2 separate regions of the Homo sapiens genome follow, and region 2 is linked to region 1. Evidence: fine-mapped expression QTL. A gene starts in region 1. The other region holds a variant in brackets. All regions are shown on one strand. Distances are between the middles of the regions. Region 1 holds the start of ENPEP (glutamyl aminopeptidase). Region 2 holds the start of LOC124900892 (small nucleolar RNA U2-19).

What was found. PIP is the estimated chance that this variant, and not a neighbour inherited with it, causes the effect.
Region 2: its variant is fine-mapped to the expression of ENPEP in esophagus muscle (GTEx, PIP 0.92).

The regions. Positions count from the first base shown.
Region 1 is chr4:110,473,542-110,478,926 of GRCh38, reverse strand. ENPEP (glutamyl aminopeptidase) reads right to left here and starts at 2,772. Exons shown (of 20, transcript NM_001977.4): 1 at 1,869-2,772. The coding sequence starts at 2,512.
Region 2 is chr4:110,431,760-110,437,144 of GRCh38, reverse strand. LOC124900892 (small nucleolar RNA U2-19) reads left to right here and starts at 3,957; the gene lies at 3,957-4,036. The variant C/T (reference allele first, on the strand shown) is at 2,508.

The DNA of each region.
Region 1 (5,385 bases):
CTATATCCTAACCTAAGGAAATAAACAGATGCACATACAAAGAGGTATTTAGAAGTATGTTATTTGATGATTTGTTTATAATAATAAAATACTAGAAACAACTCAAATGCTCAACAATATAATTTGTTTTAAAAAATTACAATGTATTCAAACAATGGAATATTTCACATCTTTAAAATCAGATTCTTGGCTGTGTGCAGTGGCTCATGCCTATAATCCCAGCACTTTGGGAAGTGGTGGCAGGAGGATTGCTTGAGTCCAGGAGTTCAAGACCAGCCTGGGCAACATAGCAAGACCCTGTCTCAATAAAGAACAAAAAACAGATTCTTGAAAACATGTAAGAATAAGGGGAACTTCTCAAGACATTAAGTAAAAAAGGCATATAGATAGACAGATATAATGCAATTAAAGGTTTGATTGCCTAGAAAAACATTAGAATATACATTAATATGCTAGCAGGGATTACCACTGGGCAGTGAAATTATTTTACAGATTATTTTGATTATCCTTTTTGATAATTTTTATGCTTTCAATGATGTAATTCTTATGAACAGAAAAAATACGTAAATGGTAAGAGTGTTTTTTTGCTAGCAGTATTAAGATATAAGATCTATATAAGCATGACCCCTACAGATATTTTCTTCAAACTATCACTTCTACTCAATTTATCAGTTTACCACACAGGAATATAGGAATATTTAAATGTTTTGTTTTAGTCCGTGGGTCTGTCTGACAAACAATAGAAAGAATTTTGACCAAAAAATTTGCTTGCTCTGTAAGATGCTTAAAACAACAGAAAAAAAGGGATATTTGTGGGTGGACTGGCCCAAGACTCACATCTCTAAACTGTGACAAGAAGCTTTCTTAATCATTTACCTCTTCAGAATCTAAGCCAGCAAAGGTCAAAGCAGTCCAGACACAACACAAGGTGTAGTGTAGCCTTCCTCCCTGATGCAAGGGCTACATCCACAGTGTGAAGGAAGTTTTTGGAGTTCAATGAGAGAGTTTATGCCTTTAACATAGCTCTGGTAGTAGCCACTGATCAATACAAAGGCTAGACAAATAGGTGGGAAAGTGGAATAAATACCTATCTATCTAGATAGATATTTGTATACAAATATTTGTATGTATTTAACTACTTAATATATCTTTTATGTTGTAAAAGGCTTAGCATTATGTTTGCACATTGTATCATGAGCAACAAGCCTCCAAATTTACCTATGCCACTGATGTGTGGACTCAATGAATATTTCCTGAAAGCCTATGTGTAAAGCATGGTCCTGGCCATCGGAGACAGAAAAAAACACAGTCCTGTCTTCCTTTCCAGATGAAGACACAAAGACAATTCTGTGGATCACATGTGATTTTTCAATGTCTCTCTTCTCCAAAAAAGAGACATTGGACAAAAAAAAAATGGACAAAATAATAACTGAAATTTACTGATGTTTCACGTAAATTTAGTGTAATACCACTTTAAAAGTTCATATATATTGCTGTATATATATTGCTACATAGCCTGGGAATATCACTAGTGAAATTTACCAAAGGCAGTTCTCAAACCTGAGATAATTTATGGAAATCTTCAAGATAGGGTGCAGTATATTATGATTTCTCCTGATGGAATAAAAGACTTACACTGACTTTTGACTCTACGAAGCTCATTCACTACTTTCAAGTTTTATGACAGGGTTTGGAAATACAATAGGGCAACAATTTTGGCTTCCCAGATGGACAGCCAGAATTGAAACCAAGAGCCGATCAATATCAGACCAACAAAATAATTAAAAGCGGAAAGTGAAAAGGAAAGGAAAAGAAATGGAAAGCAGATATGTGAGCTTAAGGGAGGTAAAGCAAAAATTAATATTTACTTGACTTGTCCGTTCTCCGTGTAGGTGGTTCTATAAAATCCCACGAGGGAGCCGTTCAGCCAGCCGGCGAACTCCATGGTCAGGAGATACAGGCCATCTCCACTGCTGGGGGTAAGCTCTTCCTCCGCCTCGACCACCACGTACTCCTGCTTTTTGTACTCGAAACACCTCCGGACTTGCACCTGGTCCCCAGAGGGCCTCTTCAGCTCCGGGAGCCGGGTGATCCTGGTCTCCCGGAGGTGCAGCCACAGGTACCGGGTGGGAGCGCTCAGGTTGATGGAGATGCTCACGGTGCCCGTGTAGGTGTCCTCCTCCAACAGGGGCTTCACGTGCAGGTCGTAGTGGACTGGGTTGACGAAGTCCGGCAGTCGAAAGTTTTTCCACTGTCCGCTCTCATCCTCACTGGCCGGGCAGATGTCCTGGTCCTGGGCAGGAGGACCTGAGGGGCTGGCCGTGGAAGAAGGCAGGTGGGAAGGAGCTGGCGCAGTGCCCGGCCCGCCGTCCCCGCTGGAGTCACACGATCTGGTCAAGCCCACGGCAAGTCCCACTATTAATCCTACACCCACCACCACCGCACAGAGAATGGCCACATGTTTCGTTTGAATGCAGTATCTCTTAGAGCCCTCTCTCTCCGCAAAGTTCATTTTTGCTTCCAAAGTCAAGTGTTACACATAAAAAGATGTTAAATTTAACTAACTAACGTCAGCAGACTTCCTTTTTAAATTGGAAGGAATCCCCTGATTTGGCAGCCTGTTTTCGCTTTTCCCACACCCCTCTCTCTGGCTTCTTGCGCCTTTTCCTCTCCCTTTTCACGTTCCCACCAGCCACTCAGGATGAATGCGGAAACAAGGGGGGTGGAATGAGGACTCCGTAAGAGGAGCCGAGTGGGAGGAAGAGGGCTGGCAAGAAGATTGTCACAGCTCCCCTTATAAACGACGCATCTCCACCCCTACCCCTCCTGCACTGCAGCGAGTTAAATATAAAACAGGGCTTCGCTTATCAGCCAACGGGAGGATGAGCCCTCGCCAAAGCTCCGTCAGCAGCTTTCAGGGAGCAAGCGTTTGGGTGAGGTGTGCTTACGATAGAAAATCTCAACCTTTGCCACTCAGCCTGGGGCTTCTTCCTGTTGTGTTCGCAATCTCTCCCTCCTAACTAAAGGGCTTCTTGAATTTCAGCTATTTTATCAGATAGCTTGCTAAAGAAGCTAAGTGTTTTCTTTTATTTTTTTTCCCTCATATTATGTAAACATTCCAATTCTGTCCTTTGAAGAAGTCATATCCTGGAATTGGGTGCTCAGGGTGATTCAAGGACCACCTAGGTACTCAGTAAATATTTGTCGAATTAGATTTGGAAAGCATAGCCAGGTAAACCTAAATCAGTTCAGCTGGTGCTGGGTGAATGAGAGAGGGGGAACCCAAAGAAATTAGCCAAAGCAGTAGTGGAGCTGGAAAGCTTAAGAAGAGAGAGGGAACAAGAGGGGGAGAAGTCTGAAAGGACAGAGGGACAAGGAAGAAGGCCTACTTGTCTCTGCAGTGTGCCTCCAAGTGAGATTGACTTCCTTAGACTTTGATGTGGTAGAGCACGTTTAAAGTAGATTCCAGATGTGAAAATTGACCTGTTGGGAAATCCATCATCCATGCAAATCTATCATTTTGTTTCTGAATGACAAGCTCAGGAAGAAAAATCTCAATGAACTTCATATTTACTGGCAGCTTAGCTATGGACTGACATTTAGAGAGGTTAAGCTATTGCTCAAGGTCACACACCTGGCAAATAGCAGAACTGGGGTTTGAACCCACGTTGTCTGAGTCTAAAGTCCATATATCTGGCCAGGTGTGGTGGCTCACGCCTGTAATCTCAACACTTTGGGAGGCTGAGGCAGGTGGATCACCTGCGGTCGGGAGTTTGAGACCAGCCTGGCCAACGTGGTGAAACCCTGTCTCTCCTAAAGATACAAAAATTAGCCAGGCGTGGTGGAACACATCTGTAATCCCAGCTACTCAGGAGGCTGAGGCAGGAGAATTGCTTGAAGCTGGGAGGCGGAGGTTGCAGTGAGCAGAGACCGTGCCATTGTACTCCAGCCTGTGTGACAGAGCAAGACTCCATCTCAAAATAAATAAATAAATAAATAAAATTAAAAAAATTAAAGTCCATATATCAACGATCGCATTCTACTGCTTGCTTCCATGCTCTGAGGAGGATAAATATTCAAGGGTTAAGTAACTATGAAAAACTTGGTATTTCCCCAGATACAATCCATGGATATTAACAGATCTACTTGCCAAGCAAACAATGCTGGGTTAAAGTGAAAAATCTTCTTTTACTACTCTCCATTCTTGCAGAGCCTCCAGATGGTGACACACATTGTGAGCCTCTCAGAGAGGAAACACGACGGAGTACTTTCCCCATTTAGTTGACAAGACAGCTTTTTCTGGTGAGGTACCTTTTGAGGGCCCTCTGTTCCACAGAGCACACTCTGAGAAACGTTGTTTCAAACGGTTCTAAATTACAAACTAAACAAACAAACAAAAAACAAAACTTTAAAAGCAAACGGGTCCATTTTACTCTGTAACATTTCTGCTGTTTTTCTCACAAAATAGTAGTAACAGAAAAAGAATTAAAGGAAAAAGGGATATGTTTTTCTAAATTGTAGGCCCATCTTGTATTGATTAATTTTACATTCTGAAGCAACCCTAAACTTCTTGAGATCACAGTATGTTTAAGTTTGGCACATTAACTTCCTGAATTTTAGCCCTTGAAACCCTCTTTTTATTGAAAAGATCATCTGACATTTCAATAAATGTTTGATGGGTCAAATATTTTGATATGTTTCTTAGGAATGAAAGGCAAAAATGTGGCTCAAATTTACCTAAACATAGTGAAAGGAAAAGCAAAAAGTATTTGGAAGAATGTACATAAAATTATGTTAAACTGGAAGTATTTTTTAAAATCTCAGATGTGGCAAACATTTGAAATCTCTTAAACTTGACCTTGTGGCAAACATATATGAAATCTCTTAAACTTGCCCTTATTTACAAAGACAACAATCTTATCACCAGGTCTTATGTACAGAGAAGATAATAGACCTTTGGGTTGGGTACACTTAAGGAAGATTAAGAATGGCCACCTGCTATGAAAAAGCTCTACTACTCTGCCTGAAATTCTACCATAATGAATATACTATTTAAATGCATTTTTTTTTGCCAGAAGAAATAAAATACCCTAAGTCCACATATGGGGTGTGTGTGTGTGTAGGTTTTGAGTCCACAGCCCAGTTCTAGCCACAGTATCTTATTAGTACCAACCTGTGTGAGCTGACTGCATCCAATGAAGGGCACCACATCTTGTGAGGATCAGCATATTAGGGTGACCTAATACAGCCAGATGAGCAGAGGTAGAAGGGCCAGCATGTGCACCATCACAGGCACCCTCCTAGATTAAATAGACCATATTGGGTAATCTTACGTTGAATGAATCTACATTGGATATAAATAATTTCAAACGACTACTGCTGGTC
Region 2 (5,385 bases), 42 kb after region 1:
TGCAAACTCTTGAGAACCTCATAGTGCAAAGGCTGAGATTGTTGCTGACAGCCTTCTTCACCTTGGTTTCTGCAGCCTTCTAACCATTGGGTAAGCCTCTAATTCCCTGCATTGAAAATATTCATACTTGGAATATATTGAGAGGCTTCTGCTTTCATGCCTAATCCCTGACTGACTTGTTCAATAAATATTTGGAGAATGAATGAAAAATAATTCCATCATATTAAAAAGTCAGTAGATATTCCACTGATATTTATCATTCAAGGGGAAGGGGCTAATACTAATTGTGAGTCATGTGGCAGGCAGTTTCCTATGCATTATTTACCACCTTCCAGTAATCTTGATAGATCACTATTATTGTCTCATTTTATACATGAGGATATGGAAAAATGAGAATCAAACAGATACACCAACTCACAAAGCATTGCCTTAACGTTCTACCATGTTACCTTAGTGTACGTCAACTTAGTGTATGCTTTTGTGGATAATCACAAGAAATTTCAAGGGCCATTTGAAACCCAATATTAGCCACATTTTTCAGTTTTTCCTACCCACCAAGAGCAATAAATCCTGAGTTCCTCTCAATTATACCACTGAATGGACTACCTATAGCCAATGAATTCAATTAAAATATTTGAGTCTTTTTTTTCAATTATTTAGATATTATATACTTAACTATTGCTAAGAATGAGCATTTTTTATGGCAGGTGAAATGGCAATGGTAGAAATAATTTTTTTAATATCTAAAATTTGGGGTGAAGTGGATTTAAGAACTCAAAATGGAAAGGACATTGTATCATAAAAGACCAAGCAATATAAATTACCAGTTATAGTTTAGTCACCCACTAAAATCTGTTTAGCTCCTTTGGAACATGTCCAATAACTACTTCTCCTTGACCTTATGTAAATGCTGAAGACTTTGATTCTAAATACAATCACCTGAAATACTTTTTAAAGAGTTATTGTTCATTACAAAGTATGCAGAATGTTTCAGAGAACATAATTACTTGTGTGCTTATAAACATTATAGTCATTTGATAAATTATTTTCTATATTTAACAATAAAGTTAATTTATATATTTGATTTAAAAAGGAAATAGACAAAATTATCAAAAAATATAGTGGTAGGAAAATGTAAAATATTTAGTAATATATTTTAGAAAAAATCTCATTCCAAAAGGATTAATGTTCATGAGTTAATATTTAACATTTTGCTAGAAAATTGGTAATCCCACAAAAAGATTAAAATACCTAGGAATATAGCTAACTGGGGAAGTAAATTATCTGCAGTAAGAATTACAAAACACTGCTGAAAGAAATCAGAAATGACACAAACAAATAAAAAAATTCCATGCTCATGGATAAGAAGAATCAATATTGTTATATTGGCCATACTGCCCAAACCAATTTACAGATTCAATGCTATTACTATCAAACTACCACTGTCATTTTGCACAGAATTAGAAAAAAACTATTCTAACATTCAAATGGAACCAAAAAAGAGCCTAAATAGCCAAAGCAATCCTAAGCAAAAAGAACAGAGGCATCACACTACCTGATTTCAAACTATACTACAAGGCTACAGTAGCCAAAACAGCATGGTACTGGTACAAAAACAGACACATAGACCTAGAGAACCCAGAAATAAAGCTGCACACCTACAACCCTCTGACATTCAACAAAGTCAAAGATAACATGCAATAGAGAAAGAAGTCCCTATTCAATAAATGGTTTTGGGATAAGTGGCTAGCCATATACAGAAGATGGCGGAAGATTGAAACTGAACCCCTTCTTTCATAATATACAAAAATCAACTCAAAAATGGAATAAAGACTTAAATGTAAGACCTAAAACTATAAAAACCCTAGGAAAAAAAATCTAAGAAATACCTTTCTAGACATAGGCCTTAGCAAAGATTTCATGACAAAGTCTCCAAAAGTAGTTACAACAAAAACAAAATTTGACAAGCGGGAACTAATTCAACTAAAGAGCTTCTGCACAGCAAAAGAAACTATCAACAGAGTAAACAGACTACCAACAGAATGGGAGAAAATATTTGCAAACTATGCAAACAACAAAGGTCTAATATCCAGAATCTACAAGGAACTTAAACTCAATGAGAAAAAAACAAAGAACCTCATTTAAAAAGTGGGCAAAGGACATGAAAAGACACTTCTTAAAAGAAGACATATAAGCAGCCAACTAACATGAAAAAATGCTCAACATCACTAATTAGCAGAGAGGTGCAAATTAAAACCACAATGAGATACCATCTCACATCAGTCAGAATGGCTATTACTAAAAAGTCAAAAACTAACAGATGTTGGCAAGGCTATGGAGAAAAGGGAATGCCTATACACTGCTGGTGGGAGTGTAAATTAGTTCAGCCACTGTGGAAGGCAGTTTGAAGATTTCTCAAAGAACTAAAAATAGAACTACCATTTAATCCAGTAATCCCATTATAGTTACATACCCAACAGAATATAAATCATTCCACCAAAAAGACA[C/T]GTGCACTGTATGTTCGTTACAGCACTGTTCACAACAGCAAAGACAGAGAATCAACGTAGGTGCCCATCAACAGTGGACTGGATAAAGAAAATGTGGTATTTATACACCATGGAATACTATGCAGCCATAAAAAAGGAATGAGATCGGCCAGGCATGGTGGCTCACGCCTGTAATCCCAGCACTTTGGGAGGCCAAGGTGGGTGGATCACAAGATCAGGAGATCGAGACCATCCTGGCTAACATGGTGAAACCCCGTCTCTACTAAAAATACAAAAAATTAGCCAGGCGTGGTGGTGGGCACCTGTAGTCCCAGCTACTCGGGAGGCTGAGGCAGGAGAATGGTGTGAACCCGGGAGGCAGAGCCTGCAGTGAGCTGAGATAGCGCCACTGCACTCCAGCCTGGGCGACAGAGTCAGAATCCATCTCAAAAAAAAAAAAAAAGAATGAGATTATGTCCTTTGCAGCAACACAGATGCACCTACAAGCCATTATCCTAAGCGAATTAATACAGAAATAGAAAATCAAATATCACATGTTCTCACTTATAAGTGAGTGCTAAATCTTGGTTATACACATGCATAAAAATGGGAACAATAGACACTGGGAACTCTAAAAGGAGAGAGGGAGAGGGGCAAGGCTTTAAAAACTTTCTATTTGGCACTTGGTTCACTATCTGGGTGATCAGATAAATAGAAGCTCAAACCTCAGCATCACACAATATACCCTTGAAACAAACCTGTGCATGTTCCCCCCAAATTAAGAAAAAATAAAAATATTTTTAAAATCTCATTTTTAAAAACAATATGATCAATTAAAATAACTTAAATAACTTACCAGCAAAACATATAACAATCCAGAATTAAAATATTCAGAAAGCAAGCAAGTCATCTTGTACTACCAGATTCTTTTTGAAGAATGACGTTTATAAAATGAAGAGAACCAATTTTACCTGCCTGTGCTAATGGAAAATAAGTTCAAGAAATGTCCTAGTTATAATTTTCAGTTAGCCCAACATTAACATTGCCCAGAGTTTAGTGTGACAGCCACCTTGAAGCCCTTGTAAATTCTATCGCCTTGGATGAATCACAACTGATTGGTTTATCAATGCATATAATTCAGATTGTTCTGAATAAAGGTGGCTTCCCTGAAGGACCCAAGATAACTTCATGAAATAAATGTATCACATCCAGTTAATAGATGAGGCAAAGAACATTATTTATTTCAAAAGAGAAATCTTATTCTTTTGTGGTAGAGTAAAAGAAAGATTGAATACAAAATAAAATTGCTAATTAAGAAAAAGGAAAGCCACCTATACTCATTTGCTCATGAAAAAGAAACCTAGCTGAGAAGACTGGCAGGCAAGAAACACAGTGGACTAGTATTGCAGGAAGGAGAATGTTGGAATAGAAAAGTTTATTTGTTCTCTGAGATCTGCTCTTATTGAAGTGGATCAAGGATGAAAATACCCAAATTTGAGTATCAGAAGACCTTCCAGTCTACTTGATGCATGAGCTCTACAGTTTTAAGAAGCAAAACTATAAAACAGTGTAAGAAGATATATTTTCCCTGACCTCTATTTGTGATTTCCTCTATTTATCCTTAAAAGCAACTCTTACAAAAGCATAAACTTTATACATATTTGCATGGTAGGCACATTCACATATTGCTGTTGTGTTTTTCATTTTACAGGAACAAAATATGTTCATTAGTGGGAAAATAAAAAGGAACCATAGACAAGCAAAAGGCAGAAAATAGAAAACACTCAGAACCTCACTCACAGACCACTATCTTCAACTTTGTGTGCCCGCTTCTAAGGCCTAATCTTTTCTTAAAAATTATTTAATTTTAAAATGCAGACTTAAATACACATTTCTACATGAACATGATCATATCAAACATATTTTTTTCAAATATTATTTATTTCAAAAAAGAAACCTTATTGCTTTGTGGTAGAGTAAAAGAAAGATTGAATAGAAAATAACATTTCTAATTAAGAAAAAGATGTCTAGGTGGCTGGCAAGATGGCCAAATAGGAACAGCTCCAGTCTGCACCTCCCAGCAAGATCAAAGCAGAAGGCAGGTGATTTCTGCATTTCCAACTGAGGTACCCGGCTCATCTCACTGGGACTGGTTATACAGTGGATGCAGCACATGGAGGGTGAGCCGAAGCATGGTGGGGCATTGCCTCACCCAGGAAGCACAAGAGGTCAGGGAACTCCCTCCCCTAGCCAAGGGAAGCAGTAAGGGACTGTGCCATGAGGAACGGTGCATTCCAGCCCAGATACTATGGTTTTCCCACAGTCTTCACAACCCACAAACCAGGAGATTCCCTCAGGTGCCTATGCCACCAGGGCCCTAGGTTTCAAGCACAAAACTGGGTGTCCATTTGGGCAGACACCGAGCTAGCTCAGGAGTTTTTTTTTATACCCCAGTGGCACCTGGAATGCCAGTGAGACAGAACCATTCACTCCCATGGAAAGGGGGCTGAAGCCAGGGAGCCAAATGGTCTAGCTCAGAGGATCCCACCCCCATGGAGCCCAGCAAGCTAAGATCCACTGGCTTGAAATTCTTACTGCCAGCACAGCAGTCTGAAGTTGACCTAGGATGCTCAAGCTTGGTGGGGGGAGGGGCGTTTACCATTACTGAGGCTTCAGTAGGGGGTTTTCCCCTCACAGTGTAAACAAAGCCACTAGGAAGCTTGAACTGGGCAGAGCCCACCGCAGCTCAGCAAAGCCACTGTAGCCAGACTGCCTCTCTAGATTCCTCCTCTCAGGGCAGGGCATCTCTGAAAGAAAGGCAGCAGCCCCAGTCAGGGGTTTATAGATAAAACTCTCATCTCCCTGGGACAGAGCAGCTGGGGGTAGGGGCAGCTATGGG